Linked DNA regions of Homo sapiens: region 2 is linked to region 1. Evidence: fine-mapped QTL for protein levels in blood plasma. Region 1 holds a variant in brackets. A gene starts in the other region. All regions are shown on their reverse strands. Region 1 has its middle 85 kb from the start of NT5M. Region 2 holds the start of FCRL2 (Fc receptor like 2).

The links. PIP is the posterior inclusion probability: the model's chance that the variant is causal. The UK Biobank Pharma Proteomics Project read protein levels with antibody pairs (Olink). The fine-mapping took linkage between variants from a reference panel, not from the people measured, so its PIPs are less certain.
Region 2: it holds the start of FCRL2, and the variant in region 1 is fine-mapped to the plasma level of the FCRL2 protein (UK Biobank, PIP above 0.99).

What each region holds. Positions count from the first base shown.
Region 1 is chr17:17,384,241-17,392,576 of GRCh38, reverse strand. No RefSeq gene overlaps it. Among named protein-coding and RNA genes, the nearest start is that of NT5M, 85 kb to the right of the region's middle. RefSeq lists enhancers at 313-542, 4,105-4,605. The variant G/A (reference allele first, on the strand shown) is at 3,575.
Region 2 is chr1:157,773,066-157,781,401 of GRCh38, reverse strand. FCRL2 (Fc receptor like 2) reads left to right here and starts at 4,270. Exons shown (of 12, transcript NM_030764.4): 1 at 4,270-4,359; 2 at 5,607-5,627. The coding sequence starts at 4,329. RefSeq lists an enhancer at 289-348.

The DNA of each region.
Region 1 (8,336 bases):
CACTATGTTGCCCAGACTGGACTCAAACTCCTGGCCTTAAGCAATCCTTCCAACTTGACTTCCCAAAGTGCTCTGAGATTACAGGCCTGAGCCACCACACCCACACTCTGGAGAGAATTCTACAATAATATTGGGTCTGGAATTTGCTCCTTCCAGTGGGTTCTTGGTCTCGCTACCTTCCAGAATGAAGCCACAGACCCTCGCGGTGAGTGTTACAGTTCCTAAAGATGGCATGTCCGGAATTTGTTCCTTCAGATGTTCAGATGTGTTCGGAGTTTCTTCCTTGTGGTGGGTTCGTGGTCTCGCTGACTTCAGGGGTGAAGCCACAAACCTTCGCAGTCAGTGTTCCGGCTCTTAAAGGTAGCGCAACCAAAGTTGCTCATTCCTCCTGGTGGGTTCGTGGTCTCGCTGGTTTCAGAAGTGAAGCTGCAGACCTGCACAGTGAGCGTTATAGCTCTTAAAAATGGCACGTCCAGACCTGTTCGTTCCTCCTGGTGGGTTCGTGGTTTCGTTGGCTTCAGGAGTGAAGCTGCAGAGCTCCGCGATGAGTGTTACAGCTCTATAAAGGTGGCGGGTCTGGAGTTGTTCACTCCTCCTGGTGGACTCACCGTCTCGCTGACTTCATCCAGGTGTGAAGCTGCAGACTTTGCCATGGGTGTCTTACAATCAGGGCAGACCCAAACAGCCAACAGCAACAAGATTGCAAACAGCAAAAAAAAAAAAAAACAAGCATCACACAGAAGCATACTGAACAGGTTACCACTGGCGGCACATGGTGGCCAGCTTTTATTCCCTTATTTGACCCCGCCCACATCCTGCTGATTGGTCCATTTCACAGGGCGCTGATTGGTCCATTTTACACAGTGCTGATTGGTCCATTTTACACAGTGCTAATCGGTGTGTTTACAAACCTTTAGCTAGACACAGAGCGCAGATTGGTGCATTTACAATCCTTTAGCTAGACAGAAAAGTTCTCCAAGTCCCCACTCCACCCAGAAGCCCAACCGGCTTCACCTCTCAATATGACCAACTATAAATCAGTGTTTTTATTATTACCATGCACAGACAATTCTAAACATCATCAGAGATGTTTTCCAGGTTCCTAGATCTTTTGTTCATTCAAGTTCCAGAATATTTCCAGGGTTAACTGTTGAGTTTTAATGATATATGTGAAGCTCCAAGTTCACACTTTTTATTATTCATTCTTTAATAAACTTTATATTGTACATGTAGAAGTTAGTTCTGCAAACTCCCACCCGGTTCAGCCCTGACATGCATATTTAGCTACAAGCGTCTGTTTCGAGAGTGAATTCCTAATGCTCCAGGACCTCTCCAGCTCATTCAGGTGCAGTTTCCGTCTCTAAACCTCTGGGTCTCATGTTCTTAGGTCCCAGCAGGATACTCAGAATAAGCAGCTACAGCCCAGAGGCTGTGAGGGCGAAAAGACAGAGCTTGAGTTACTTTCATCAGCACTTAGAGTTTTCGTTTTCACTTGGAGTTTCCATTTTCACTCAATATTTCTCTACGGTGAAGGCAATCAAAAACTGCTAGAACTGATCCCAGAGAAATAAAGACCTCGACAATGTTGCCCATTCTGGAATGTACTGTGAAATGGGATTTTTAAAAATCTCTGAGAGGCCGGGTGCAGTGGCTCATGCCTGTAATCCCAGCACTTTGGGAGGCGGAGGCTGGCTGATCATGAGGTCAAGAGTTCAAGACCAGCCTGAGCAACATGGAGAAACCTAGTCTCTACTAAAAATACAAAATTAGCCAGGCGTGGTGGCACATGCTTGTAATCCCAGCTACTCGGGAGGCTGAGGCAGGAGAATCGCTTGAACCCGGGAGGCAGAGGTTGCGGTGAGCCAAGACTGCACCACTGTACCCCAGCCTGGGCAACAAGAGCGAAACTCCGTCTCGAAAAAAGAAAGAACTCTACCAAAGTTATACTTACGTTGAAGACGTTTTCTAACATTTTGTACCCATTGCTTCATCAAAAAGAAACTTTACAAAATTGAAGTTAATAAACAATGCTCATCCATTCCCTAGGAGAGAATATGAGCTGACTATTCAGCCCACTGTGTTGAAGCCTGGCTATTCAACACAAGTCCATGAGGAAGACCAATGTTGACAAAATCACTTGACACAACTGCAGAAAAGAAAGCTGAAAATAGAAACCATAATGTCATTATCCATTATCGTGACTGATCAACATGAAGGAAAGTTTTTATCACTTTTCTGATGCCATTTTTCCTCATCATGATTTCATACAGAAAGGTCATTGCAAGCAAATTCTCATCTGCATTTCCTTTTTTTTTTTTTGGAGACAGAGTTTTGCTCTTGTTGCCCAGGCTGCAATGCAGTGGCACACTCTCAGCCTACTGCAACCTCTGCCTCCTGCGTTCAAGCAATTCTCCTGCCTCAGCCTCCCAAGTAGCTGGGATTACAGGCGCCCGCCACCACACTCAGCTAATTTTTGTAATTTTAGTAGACACGGGGTTTCACCATGTTGTCCAGGCTGGTCTCGAACTCCTCACCTCAAGTGATCCACCTGCCTTGGCCTCCCAAAGTGCTTGGATTACAGGCGTGAGCCACTGCACCTGGTCTTGCATTCCTTTTTTAGCTATTAATATTATTCCTTTTGTTTCATGATTAGTATTGAATGTAATTTTGTCATGTAGAGAAGGGAAGTGTTAAAAAATGATCTGTCCCTGTGTGGAATACGCCAGGCATGTCACTGTTTCAGGAGAGTATTCCCCAGCCCTTCCTGGCTGTGGGTGCCAGTGGTCAGAGCAGGTCTGTGGGCCAAAAAGTGCAGATATGGTTGGAGCTGAGCTTGCATGCTCAGAAATGGGAAGAGTCACAGGTAGCGTTGCCAGAGATAAAGAGAGAAAATAAACACACACACACACACACACGCATAGGCACACAGGGCCTTCATAAATTAATAATTTATTAATTTTATTATTAAATTTCAATATTGAATAAACAATAAATAAAATTTTCAGATAAGCGTGTCCCATGCAATATTTAGTATGTATTTATACTAAAAAAAAATCCAAATTTAGGCTGGGTGCCGTGGCTCACACCTGTAATCCCAGGGCTTTGGGGGATCAGTGCAAGAGGATCTCATGAGCCCAAGAGCACGAGGTTACAGTGACCTATGAAAGTAAATTAATAAATATCCCTAATCAGAGTTCACTGGCAACCTGTACAATCTGTATTTTTTAGTTGGGGTCTTGCTGTGTTGCCCAGGCTGGAGTGCAGTGGTGGGATCATGGCTCACTTGATCTGCATTTCATCTGGCAATCCTCGTGGTGGGGACACGGGCAGGGCAGTGACTGCCAACGCTGCACTACCTCCACTTAACATTCAGGAGTTTTCACAGGAGAAGTCCGAATCTCCATGGTCACCCGAGAGAGCAGTTTGTGGTATGGCAAGCCACATTCCTGCAGCTCTTGGCTGGAGCTGAGACAAGGCTGCGGCTCAGGAGGGCCTGAGCCTCTGCAGACCACAGCTGCTTCCCCAGCGCCTGCCATCAGGGGAGGACGGGGTGACCACAGCAACGTCAGGAGGA[G/A]TGGAACTCACCTGACCACTTACCACGTGCCAGGCACCACGGGACATGCCTGACACGGGAAGGCATCCTTAACCACTCATCTCTGTGGTTCAAATGTGCTATTCTCCTACCCATTCTACAGATGAGGAAACTGAGGTTCTGAGAGGTTAAGTGACTTCCCTGAGAGCACACAGTGAGTGGTGGGGCTGGGAGTCAAGCCCGCAGCTGTCAGACCCTGGAGCGAGGCCAGAGGAGGAAGGAGAGGGATGGGAGAGACCGGGCAGGGGGTGGGCTGCAAGGCTCCAGGACCCCCGTTAGAATCCAGGAAGCACAGGAAGCCATTGTCTCCCCTAAGGCTGTGATTTTTTCCAGCCCTTCCATACCCCTGTGGGTCTCATGGCCCCCACTCCGTTGGCCATCTCCCCTAAATCCCCGAGGCCTTAGGGTCTTGATGTCAGTTCCAAGGGGCTGGTGTGAAAGGCCTTGAGGTACAGCCAGGTCTCAGAGGATTCCAGAAGCCCCCAAACCTTCCAGTCCAAAGGAGGTGCTCTGAAAGCGCAGGGGGGCAGCCCGAGGCCACATGTCCCGAGGCCACACACACTGCTGGGCTCCCCTGACAGCCTCTGCCCCGCCAGTCTGAGGTGTGGAGGATGTCTGGATAAGGCACCAAGGCCATTGGGCAGAAGTCACCATGCCAATCCCCACAGACGTCAGCCAGCCACTAGGGGCTCACCCTTCAGGTGAACACCTGCGGGTGCCAGGCCTGTGCGCAGCCAGGAGGGAGCCCACAGGTGGGAAGAGGTAGTGCAGGCTCCTAGCAAGACAGGAAAGCTGCGGAGTCTGAATGACAGCTGCGAAGGAGGCCGAGAGCCAGAGGCCTCAAGCCTGCTCCTGGAGCTGCTCTCTGCTCACACACAGCAGCTAAGGCCAAGCAGGAGCTCAAGGGGCCTGGTCCCTCTCCCACCAGAATCCCCCAGAGAGCAGGGCAGTCTGGCTTTCCAGCGGGGCTTGGGCAACAACTTCCTCCCAGGGAACTCACATTCTCACACGGCAGTCCCTTCTGGAGCCCAGAGCCAGCCGGTCCAAGCATGCACAGTCCAGCTCTCCCTCAGCTGGCCCTTTGACCTTGAGACCCATGAACCCTGTTCGCCCTGCTGCACTGCCTTCCAGAGGTAGAATTCTTGGATTCCAGCTTACCCACACACTGTTCAACCCAGCCCCTGATGTCACAGACGAAGAACTGGAAACTCAGAGAGGTTAGGGGGTTTCCCAAACCCACACAGTGGACCAGGGTCCAGACTGGGCTTCCCGCCAACCAAGGACCATTTGGTTTGTAGCAAAATGCTAGTGACACGTAAGTCCTGGATGGAATTCTGTCTCCCTGACAGGGGGCTTCCTAGCAGTGCCACTCTCCTCTCCTCTCCATCTTGCCACCCGACCAGTCACGCTGAGCTCAGGACTTGGGGATGACTCATACCCACTGTCTTGCAACACCTTTACCTGAAACATCCCCACTCCCACCTTGCCTTAGCTCCAGCCCAGCCATAAAACACAAGAGGCCCCTTTCATGAGAGGGTCACCTGCCTACTGTCCCTTGCAGACCGGGGAGCTCCCTGATCAGTGTTTCCTGTATCCTCAGTGGCATCCTCTCATTCAGTATGCAGTAGGAGCATAATAGCATTGAGTGAATGAATGAAATAGGATCTAAAGTCACTTTTGGTGGGAGTGGTCAGAGAAGGCGCTGGGGAGGGTGTGGCCTTGGAGCCAGGTGTGAATCATAGGTAGGATTTTAATAGCCGAGAGCAGAGAGGAGGGCATGTCAGGTGACGCACAGGTGAGCAAAGCCCCAGCGCGGGAGAGCATAGGTGTTGCCAGGGAAATGGCACCCAGGGGAGGGCTTACTCGATTAGATGATGTCTATCAGGCTTCTCCAGTGCAAAGGTACTATTTTCCCCTTTGTCATGAATAAGTATTTTTGAGATTATGCCATTATTCCATTGCTCAGCACATGTTCAATTGATTCATTCATTTGCTTATATCTGCAAGGACTTATGCTTTCCTATTCCTTCTTTGGGTTACAGTCTGTTATTACGATTGTTTATGTTGATGCTCACAGCATCCCAATTTTGCCAATTCAGGGTGGCTTCTGGATATCTGTGACACGTCCCAACCCTTCTTTGAGGCCACCTGATTTCATGGTGCAACACAGGATTCCAGACGCTTCCTCCAAGGAGCCTGATGGAGGACAGCATGACAGGCCAAGATCTGGGCGGGCACTGTGCTCATGGCTGCTGGGGGGACGCTGCTTGTGGCCCTCTCAGCGAGCAGAGCCACCTACCCACACATGTGTTTTTGTATCCACCTATGTGTGTGAGTTCAACCCAGGCCTCCCACACCAAGTGAGCACCTGAGAATTCATCTGGTTTATCCTTTTCTGACTTGGCGACGCCACCCACAATGAGTGCTCTCATTCCTGGCACCCTCACTAATAATACTTTACCTGTTATTGGGCCCTGAATGGCACCATCTTGGGCTCAGCTGCTGCCCCTCCCTGCACAGACCCCCAGGCCTGGCTGTCCTGCCGCATCCCTGGGCCTGTCCACCCAAGGCACTTGGCCGGGTCCCTGGAGGAGCAAGCTGTGTTCCGTTTCTGCAGCTGCCATGGAATGCTGGGAACAAAACGTCCCCAGGGGAGTTCCGCTTTGGGTGGTGAGTTTGGTCTTCCAGGCAGATCAACAGAGGACGGCGATGCTCCCATCCTGTGACCAAACAAGGGTATTAATTGCGGAGAAGACTCTCTTATTAACTCCTGCCATCCATGGGATACGCAAGCTGTGCAGACGAATCTCTCTTCTCTCTTCTCTCTCTCTCTCTCTCAAAAAGCAAACACCCCTCAGGGGTGGTAATTCTTTAAATGAGGAGAGGAAATGAAGGAGGTGCCAGGCTCCTCCCTTGGCTGTGGGTGGAGAGTCAGCTCTACCCTGGGCCTTCCCCAGGGGGTGCTGAGATAGAGACTGGGGGCTGACTGCTGGAGGGGGGCTGGAGCCCCCCAGACTCTTCGCCTACTTGCCCAGCTCTGCTACTGCCTCCTGGCGAGGACTTAGGCATTGCCACCATTTGGCCTCTCCGCATCTGAACATGAGGGTGTTGAGCCCCTCAGAGCTCCCCTGTGACTGCTCATATTATTTTGGACACAAAGATGAGTCCCGCTCTTTCCCTGACACGGCCGGCTCGACTCCGCCACGCCAGAGTCTTTGAGGTCCTTGAGGTCAGAGGGCTTGGGGACTGCCAGCTGCTGTCTGAATGGCTTCTCTGAGAGCAGTTGTCCCCTCTGTGAGATGTGCCAGCTGTTAGGCTGTTGTGCGGATGAGCTGAGATAATGCGGATAGAAGCGCCCAGCATATGCTGACACAGGGATTATCAGCGTTCAACAAATGGAAGCCAGGATCATTTGAAACCCAGCCAGATGCTATAGGAGTCCATTTGGATGCAATGTCCAGAATAGACAAATCCGTGGGGACAAAAAGCAGATTGACGGTTGCCAGGGGCTGCAGAGGGGGGATGGTTAAAACGATACATTTCATGTGGCGTGTATTTTACCTCAATTCAAAAAAGAAAAATCCAGCCAGAGACAGAACGGCATGGTCCCCAGGAATCAATCTTTGTGGACTGAGAGGATGCTGAGGTCAGAGTGTCAATTCTCTAAATGGTTTTCAGCCATGTGTGAGGCTAACTGTCAGGGGCTCCTCTCGGCCTAGGGTGGGGACACACATCATCCTCTCTTCCTTACCTTGCTGGCAGGGCCAGGCCTTGCAGTGTCTTCCCAACACACGTCCACACCTGAGTTCATTCAGACCTCCACTCCTGCACAGCCTGCACCCTCTCCAAAGCAGGGAGGGTGAGGAGGGGGTGCAGTGCAACGCTCAGGCTCCGATGCAGGTTGCGGGTGCTGGTCGCTGCCCTGCCTGAGCCCTGAGCAGGCTGAGAGCCCCTCTCTCCGCACTGGTGTTTCCAGTGCTAAAGTGGGAAATGGACGGATGTTTTCCAAAGTCACTTCTTGCACCTGAGTTCACCCAGGGCCCATGGGTGGCTCAGGCCTAATGACCCACTCCCCATGTACAGGGCATTAGTGCTGTTCTAGAATGTGCCCACCCACAGCTTCGTGGGCTGGGACCTGTGCAGGGAGAAGGGCCCCTGCTATCCCTACCTTCAAAATCTTTTACATTTTTGAACAAGAGGCCCTACAGTGTCATTCTGCACCAGGCCCTGGAAATTATGTAGCTGGGCCTTGGGGACCTTCTCAATGAGGACAAGTACTGTGTCCCCAGCCTGTGAACAGTACCTTGCCCACAGCACAGGTTGGGTGTGTGTGGACTGGATAATAAACTTTCAGGTTCACTGCGAGGGGTGCCTCCCCACTGGTGCTCCCAGGGCCTGGCCTTCCTGGTGACCCCATGGACCATGGGAGGGAGGTGAGGTGAGGTATGGATGCTGCCCGGGCTCCTGATGCCCTTAGCATGGGAGGTAAGGCAGGGTCCCGAGAACTGGGCATCGAGGTGTTCCCCTGCCACTTGCAAAGCCCTCTAGCCTGGCTGCATGTGGGATTCAGCCAGGAGGAGTGCTGGAACCCGGTCCCCAGAAGGGACCGTGCAGGGTCAACCTCAGAGGACTGCCCTGCTGGAGGAAGGTGCCCCAGGAGGTCCGGGATGAAGGAGAAGGAAGCTCAGTAAAGAGCCCAGGTAGCCCCAAGAAGATGACCAGGTGTGGGAGGGAGGCTTGGCTT
Region 2 (8,336 bases), not on the chromosome of region 1:
CCTGCCAGAAAGACACCCACAGAAAGCTGCTGTGGGTGATTCTACTAACGGTTGGTGTAGTTGATGACCCATGGTTCACAGCTCCCCTTGGCCTGAAAAGTCATAACCCATCCACCTTCTGGAAAACCCACACATATACAATTAAAACAGGAAGCAGAAAGCTTTGAACTGAATTTGACCTCTAGACATCCCTCCCCACCTGTTGTTCTCATGGAACCCAGGCAACTTGCCAGGAAGTATTTTCATACACGGAGAGAAGACTGCTCACCACCACAGGTGCTGCTCTGATGTCTTCTATGAGCCTCCCTAAGTCTTTCTGCCTCTCTGCCTCCCCTCAGACACCAAGGCTGGGTTCCCCTCCACCTCCACTGTAGGAATAGTAATACCTTCTTTAGTAAGGATTTACCATAGTTTCCATTGCTACTAAAGGAACTGATAATCTTCATGACGAAGGAAAAAATCGAACTTTGTTAAACTCCAGTCCCCTAGAGATACACTATCTAAAACTTCAACTTACTCTTGGCCTTCTCTGATTCTCTGGGCTTTCACTATCTTCATTATCTTCCATGGAGGTAATGACCACTAGCTTCCAAGCATTTATACCCATTCTGAATTCTCTTTCATGCTATTTGCTCCATGCAGAGCCCTACTGGACTTCTAGATATAATAAATTTAATTGTAAAAAATCTTCTGGGCAGAAGGGCCTGGCTCTGTCTAAATTACATTGGAGAGTGTCTGCATAGACAACATTTGGTCTAGCCAGTTCTGTCCCAGAAGTTCTTCAACAAACAACATCACCTCCATAGAACTCGGAAAGTATCTAGTTACTATCTTGGACAGGAAGTTATTAGGGAAAGCCCCACTCAACAAAGACATATCATGCTGCTCAAGGTAATTATTGTAATTATTAAAACTGCTACTACCACTACTGCCATAACAATGATGATGACCATGACTATGACTACTTCTACTGCCATTTATGTAGCAATTATTATGACAAGTAATTTATATATATTATGACATTTAATTCTCTCATAGTGACCTTGGAACCCCAAGCTCAAAAGATTATATCTAGGGATCTTGGAAGTTAGCCTGTTTCATTTTCTTATTTTCCCACTCTAACTGTCCTAGTAATCAAATTCATCAAGCAGGAAGTGTGATTTGTTTTATTCTGACATATTTTATGAAGACTCTATTTGTCTCTGTCTCAGTTCTGGCATGCCCCAACTTGGCACTGTATTTTGTATTCCATTCAAGACATTGAACACGGTTCACAGAGATGACTCTTGCTCTGCATCTGGCAAAATAGGCTTCAGTATGTTACCACCTGTGGAATCTCCATGTTAAGGGTTTACCTGGTTGATCCAAGAGGCATTTATATGTATGTCTAATGCTGGTTCTTTCTGATACCTGTGACTCCATCCTGTTGGTGGCAAAATATCCTTGCACAAAAAGTATTATCTCTCACTTTGATCAAACCTACAAACATAATTTTATTTCTGCCACTATTGCCTTAATTTTTAAGTTACTTTCCCCACCCCCCACCAAGTGTCTATTAAGCCTCTTAATCTCTGGTCACAGTGCCTACTGTGCATTCAAGTTTAGCTACGCTTCCAGGATATGCCTATTCACTTGTAAATTACTGCCGTCTGTCAAATACAGAGTAGCACCCACATGAAACATGTTAGCCATCTTAGAGGATTTGTTGCCACCTCTGTGGCCCACACACCTCATTACTGCTGCTTTCCACCTGCACCTTTTATACCAACTGTGAATTTTACCTCATATCATTTGGTAACACCTTAAGAAATATTGATTCTTAACTGAAGAGGCCACATTTCCATAGAGGGTATATAGAAATCAGTGAAGGGATATGGATTATTTTGAAAAATCTCCTTGATGTCTATGAAAAACTTGTACCTACCATCAATTTACCATCAACTTTTTCATGATCCTATTTGTACTCCTTTCCTTAATTCCCTCCCATCCACAAAATTTCTATAGCTTCCAGGTTGGTCAGAATGGGAAGGAATTATAGGCCACCTAGAAACCCATTCAGTAGGCAAGATTTGATGATCAGTGACTAGCTTTGGTCCTGGGAAAGAGTAACTTACACTTTCAAACACATACAAACCGTTTGCCTATGCAGAAAGTTAAAGTAGTATTGTTTTCAACACTTTAAGATGAGAGAGGCCATAAAACCTAGTTTCTTATAATGAATCTTTAAAAAGTACGTAAATAGCATATGTTTATTGTAAGAATACTAGAATACACAGATAAGCAAAATAAGGAAAATAAAAATCAGCTTTAATTAGATTTTTTGGATATAATTACAGTAACTCTGTGGTGCGAATTGTCTCAGACACTTTTTATTGGAGAGCAGGGGATAATGTGCAGCAGATAAAGTGCACTCTGCAGCCACTTTTTTCTTTTCTTTTCTTTTCTTTTTTTTTTTTGAGACGGAGTCTTGCTCTGTCACCCAAGCTGGAGTGCAGTGGCACGATCTCGGCTCACTGCAAGCTCTGCCTCCCGGGTTTGTACCATTCTCCTGCCTCAGCCTCCCAAACAGCTGGGACTACAGGCACCTGCCACCACGCCCGGCTAATTTTTTGTATTTTTAGTTGAGATGGGGTTTCACCGTGTTAGCCAGGATGGTCTTGATCTCCTGACCTCGTGATCCGCCCGCCTCAGCCTCCCAAAGTGCTGAGATTACAGGCGTGAGCCACCGCACCCAGCCCACTTTTTTCTTAATCATATATCCTAGACATCTTATCTTGCTATTAAATATTATTCCACAGAATTATTTTAATGGCTGTTTGGTTTTCCACAGCATTTGACACATAACTTATTTTTAACACACATCTCTCCTTGTGATATATTTTTAGTATTTTCTTTTTACATTATTATAAGCAAGGCTTTAATGACCATCACATATAAATATTAGCCTTTCTCAAAGTAAAACTATGATAATAGTGAGAATAAAATGTTAAGTATCCAATTGTTAAAAATTCAATGTTAAGTATTCAGGTAAATGTTAAGTACCTGAACAGGTAACATTGAGTCTATGAATATTTTCAGTCAGTCCCTCATTTATAAGCACCTGTGATTTTTTGGTTTAGAGTTTCATCCTGCATAAGGTTCACTGATGAGACAACATCTACTGGGACTACATCTAATCAAAGTGAGCATGATAATAGGTGTTCACATAACACGCGCTTTGCTTTGTGTGAGATAACTGTATTAGGATCAGCCTGGGGTACAAAAAGCAATGCAGATTAGAAATAGGCAATGTTGTGATTACAGATTAGAAAGATGGCAATGTTTTCAGCAATATAGTGCAAGTGTTTTGAAGTTTAGTAAAATCTCATTCTAGAAAGTCATCGAATGACTACGAAAAATTTTACTTAAGAAATATGAGCTATTGAAACAATGGCCTTATTATTTTATGAACCTTGAGAAGCAATATATCAAGATAATAGGGCACAATGTTTAAGAGCCAGACTGTGACACTGGGCTGCCTGGGTTTGAATCCCAGATCTGTTACTACTAGAAATTGATTAAGCTGATCTTGGTCATTTTACTGGCTGCTATCATCTGAATGTTTGTGTCCTGGCAAAATTCTTATGTTGATACTTAATCCTCAATGCAATAGTAATAAAAGGTACCCACCTTTTATTACATGACCTTTTAGGGGTCATGAGTGTGGAACTCTTATGAAAAGGATTAGTCTCCTTGTAAAAGAGGCTTGAGGGAGCTTGTTTGCTCCTTCCATCATGTGAAGACACATAGAGGACACCATCTATGAGAAACAGGCCCTCATCAGACACTGAATCTACTGGTGCCTTGATCTTAAACTTCCCAGCCTCTTGAACTATGAGTGATAAATTTATGTTGTTTATAAATTTCTCAGTCTAAGGTATTCTTTATAGCAGCCCCAATGGACTAAGACACTTACCTTTACTAGTGCCTCAATTTCCTTATTCATGTGAAAGGGGATAGTGCCAATTCAGAAACTTGCTGAAGGTAATAAATAACTCTGTAAGCATGAGGCACTTAGAACTGTGTCTGACTCATTGCAACCCATATGTAAATGCTAGGTATCATAATGAGGGTCAAGTTACAAAATTTCTCTGGCATTGAGAGGATCAGCTATAATTGTTTTAGCCCTTCCAGGACAAAGATAATGGTTAAACATAGTGGCACTATTCTACTTCCTTTTTTGCTAATTATACAAAACCTATTCTGAAAACCACATTTCATCGCCTGCTCAGAGTCTCCAGTTGGTGACCAAGAGTACATCTCTTTTCAAATAGCTGGATTAGGTCCTCATGCTGCTGTGGTCATTGCTGGTCATCTTTGGTGAGTTCAATAATTTGACTGAGAAGTGAGGTGGCAGCTGAATGAGGTCTACTGCTCCCAAAAGGTTGGAGGTTTTATTGGAGCCCAGGGACTGGTGGGGATGCTCAGGTCCTGCCTGCAGCTTGGGCTTCAAAGGCAGATGCAAAGAAGTAGGCTGAGGACAGTGAATTTGCAGCACATCCATTAAGCATTAAGCACAATGCTTAATGTTCAAGGTGGACCACTTTTCCATTTGCTGGTCATGAATTGCTATTTTGATATCTTAGATCTCATTGAGTAATATAATGTTCTCATAGTAAAATGTTCATAATATTAGCATTTAGCAATGCCCTTCTCCTCCATGAACACCGATTATTCAATTGTTATCTATAAGATTTGGGTTCAGCAGATGCATTGAGACCCTTTGCTAATATTCCTCTGTTTAATCGTGGACAATGAGGGAGATGACAGCTGCTGCTAGAAAATAAGATTCCTGGGTGAGTGCAGTGGCTCATACCTGTAATCCTAGCACTTTGGGAGTCCAAGGCTGGTGGATCACTTGAGGTCAGAGTTCGAGACCACCCCGGCCAACATGGTGAAACCTCATCTCTACTAAAAATACAAAAATTAGCCAGGCGTGGTGGTGGGCACCTGTAATTCCAGCTACTCGGGAAGCTGAGGCAGGAGAATTGCTTGAACCCGGGAGGTGGAGGTTGTGGTGAGCCAAGATCGCACCATTGTACTCCAGCCTGGGTGAGAGAGTAAATAAGATCCCTTTCTCTATGCTGTGTAGGCACTAAATAAATATTTGTTATTGGAATACAAAGGGCTCTAACGTGAAATATGGCCATAGGAAAGAGACTGATTTGTTGATTTCTTGGAACTCTCACAATGTATGTTTCCTGATGAGCCCTTTGTGATCGTGTTGTCATGTCTATCTACCACTTGAAAAGTCAGAGTGTGAGATAGAGTGGTGGGGATGGTGGAAGGAAAATGAAATCAAGGAGAGTCACTAAATATCCAACATGGGTATTCTCGACAATCCCTTTAGTCAAGCATTGGGTTTGCAACTTGCCTTTTGACTACAATGAATGACAGTTAGATGTGTGCTCGAGGGAGATTGAATTGTTAGTAATAAGAGATTAGGGAAATAGAAAAGAAAGGGAAAATGGAAAGAAGTTTTTGAGCAATTTACCAGAGTAATATAAATTTATAAATTATGAGGGCAAATGCTGTGTGCTAATCTCTGGCTTTTGATCTCCTCACAGATGCAGTCACTGAACAGGCAGGTGAGTCCTCCTTGTCTTTGTTGTTCTTGGTCTCTGGCATATCAGTCACCCCACTACCCCAGGATTCTATAGAGGTGGCTCTGGAAAGCCTGTGAAGATGTCCTAATATTACTGCCCTCTAGGCTGACATGTTCTGAGGTCACGCAGCCTGTTTCCAACACCACTTGCATGTCTGGGTGACCAGGTACCACCTAGCCTTCTCAAGACCCCACATGCTTGCCTCTTCCTTAAAAGCCTGGCTTTAAGAAGGGCAATAACATGCAGATTGAAGAAAAGAACAATTTGGAGAGAATTGTTTTCCTGCCCATAGGACTGTAATGCCTCTTTATTGTCTGGCTGAATGCTGAATGTTTTTACAGCTCTGAAAACAGCTATTTATAGAGGAATGTGTCAGAACTACAAACTTCTGCAGGGTCAGAATAAACATGTGTCCTCATTGCTTCTCTAGCTCTAGCTCAGGAATCAGCAAGCTTTTCCTGTAAAAGGCAAGAGAGTAAATAGGCTAAGCTTTTCAGGTGTGTGCCGTAACTACTCAATGCCATTGCTGTGGTAGCAGGAAAACAACCATAGACCATATGTAAACGAATGAGGATGGCTGTGTTCCAATAACATTTTATTTACCAAAACAGTGTTGGCCAGCTCACAGGCCATAATTTGCCAACCCGTGCTCTAGATTTAGTATTTAGTTTTGATTTTTTAAAAATGCATGTATTACTGTTCTAATCATAAAGAGTGAAATAAAGCTAATTTTATTTCACTCTTTCTGAGTTAAATCTGTGCTCAGTGAAGGAAGTCAATGGGAAAAATATTTTATTCTATATACAGAATCTTCACATGAGCCAAGACAAAATCTAAAGAAAGGGAGACTTGTTCCCTTGCCCATTGAATGCTGGCTACCAAGTGGAAGGGGCTCTTTGGGCTCTAAGGAACAGTGTGGGAAAAGCAGATCCTGCTGTCACCTTGAATGGAACAAGAGTGTCCAGGGAGACATTCAGGGGTCCTACCTGGAACTTGCTCAGGAGCAAGTCTGGTCTCTTGCATTCATTCTGTCCCACATAAGGTCCAGGAGTCCCACCCTGTGATACCCATCACTCCACTGTCTGTCTGGATGGAAATTAGAGGAAACCTCGATCAATATTCAGGAGGTTTCTGACCATTAGTGGAATCATGCCAAGACAGCAGGCTCCCTGAAGTGAATCACCTACGACCATTCAGAGAACAGGGCAACAGCCACTTCATTCTCTTTCTTTTCCTTTAGCAAGAGTTTCTCAGAAAACTGAGATGTTCTTCAGAAGTTTGAGATCTTTTCTTTTTAAAAAGAGTAAGAGAGAACTTAGTTCAGCATGATGTACTGGAAAGAGCAGGACTTATATAGCCAGAAAGACCAAATTGAAATCATGGCTTTGCTATATACCTGCTATGTAGGCTGGGCAGTCACTTGGCCTCTGAACCCCAGTCTTGGCTCTGGGGAAAAGTTTCTGGCCTGTTGAGAATTACAATCCCCTGCAAGGTTTGAAAATGCTATTCAGCAGAGCAGCTGAAAAGGTCTTTCTGTCCCCATCCATTGCCTCAATGCAGTCTTCCACCCCATTTCCTCTTTTCAGCCCCACCCATACACTGCACTCACCACCTGGGACTTTGCCCTTGCAAAGCTTTGAATACCATTTGCTTTTAGTTTTTGCTGTTGCTCTGGTAAAGATATTTTTCACTGAAATTCTTGTGAAAAAACATTATTCAGTCCTGTACATCTTGCTCTGAGTTAAATCTTTGTGCTCCTATTTATTTGCTCTGCCTAAGAACTTCTCGTTCACAACCTACCCTTCTCCCTGCCCCCTACCACTGTCCCTCCACTGCAGTTCTCCTCTATACCCTCTGGGGGTCAGCATGATTCTATTGGGCACCTCTGCAGGTAGAGCCACTCTCAGCCAGTTTCTGGAGGATGTGGAACTCCCTGAGGATGAACAAGTCAGCTTTGGGACTTGTTGCCCTCCCCTTCTAGGGCCTCTGACTCCTTGTACCCTGCTAATGGTGCATACAGATTAGAACTCTTGAGGTTGCACCACAATGACAGCCAGTGTAGAGCCAGCACACTTCTGCTGAGGCCTTCAAACTGCCAGGTGGTTGGCATTGGAGCCATCACAGCCATGCTAGAAGCAAGTGGATACAAACTGTCACACAAACCCATTATGACTCTTTGGGGTTCCCTGATATGAAACTATGAACCAACTTATGTCTACCCTATAGGTAGGACATCACTCTCAGAGGGTTTGACTTCAAGTCACCTTCATTTATTCAGTATTCCCGAGTCCACCCCATCTCACAGACCTGAAACCCATTATTTTGGTTGCTCTTGAAGTGCAGTTATGATGACCTCTTATTCCTCCTCAGCCATCATTAGCTTCTGCTACAAAGACATCCCCCATCAAGACTGTGAGATTTGTGGCTCACTGAGTGGTCCATAAATGCCAGCACCATTGTGTGCTTCTCTCACAGAATCCTTAAGACTGCCTGATGAGAGGCAAATGCTCTTTGTTGTTCCATTTCTCAGTTGAGAAACTGTAACTGAACACAGGTCCAGCTGCTCACTGCTTGCAAAGTCCAATTAACAAGAGAGAGATCTGGTAGAAAGAAAGTGACTTTTTAATTCCAAAACATAGCTGAGGGGAAGTAGTACAGGCTTCTGCCTTGAGGGTACCACTTCTACTTCTC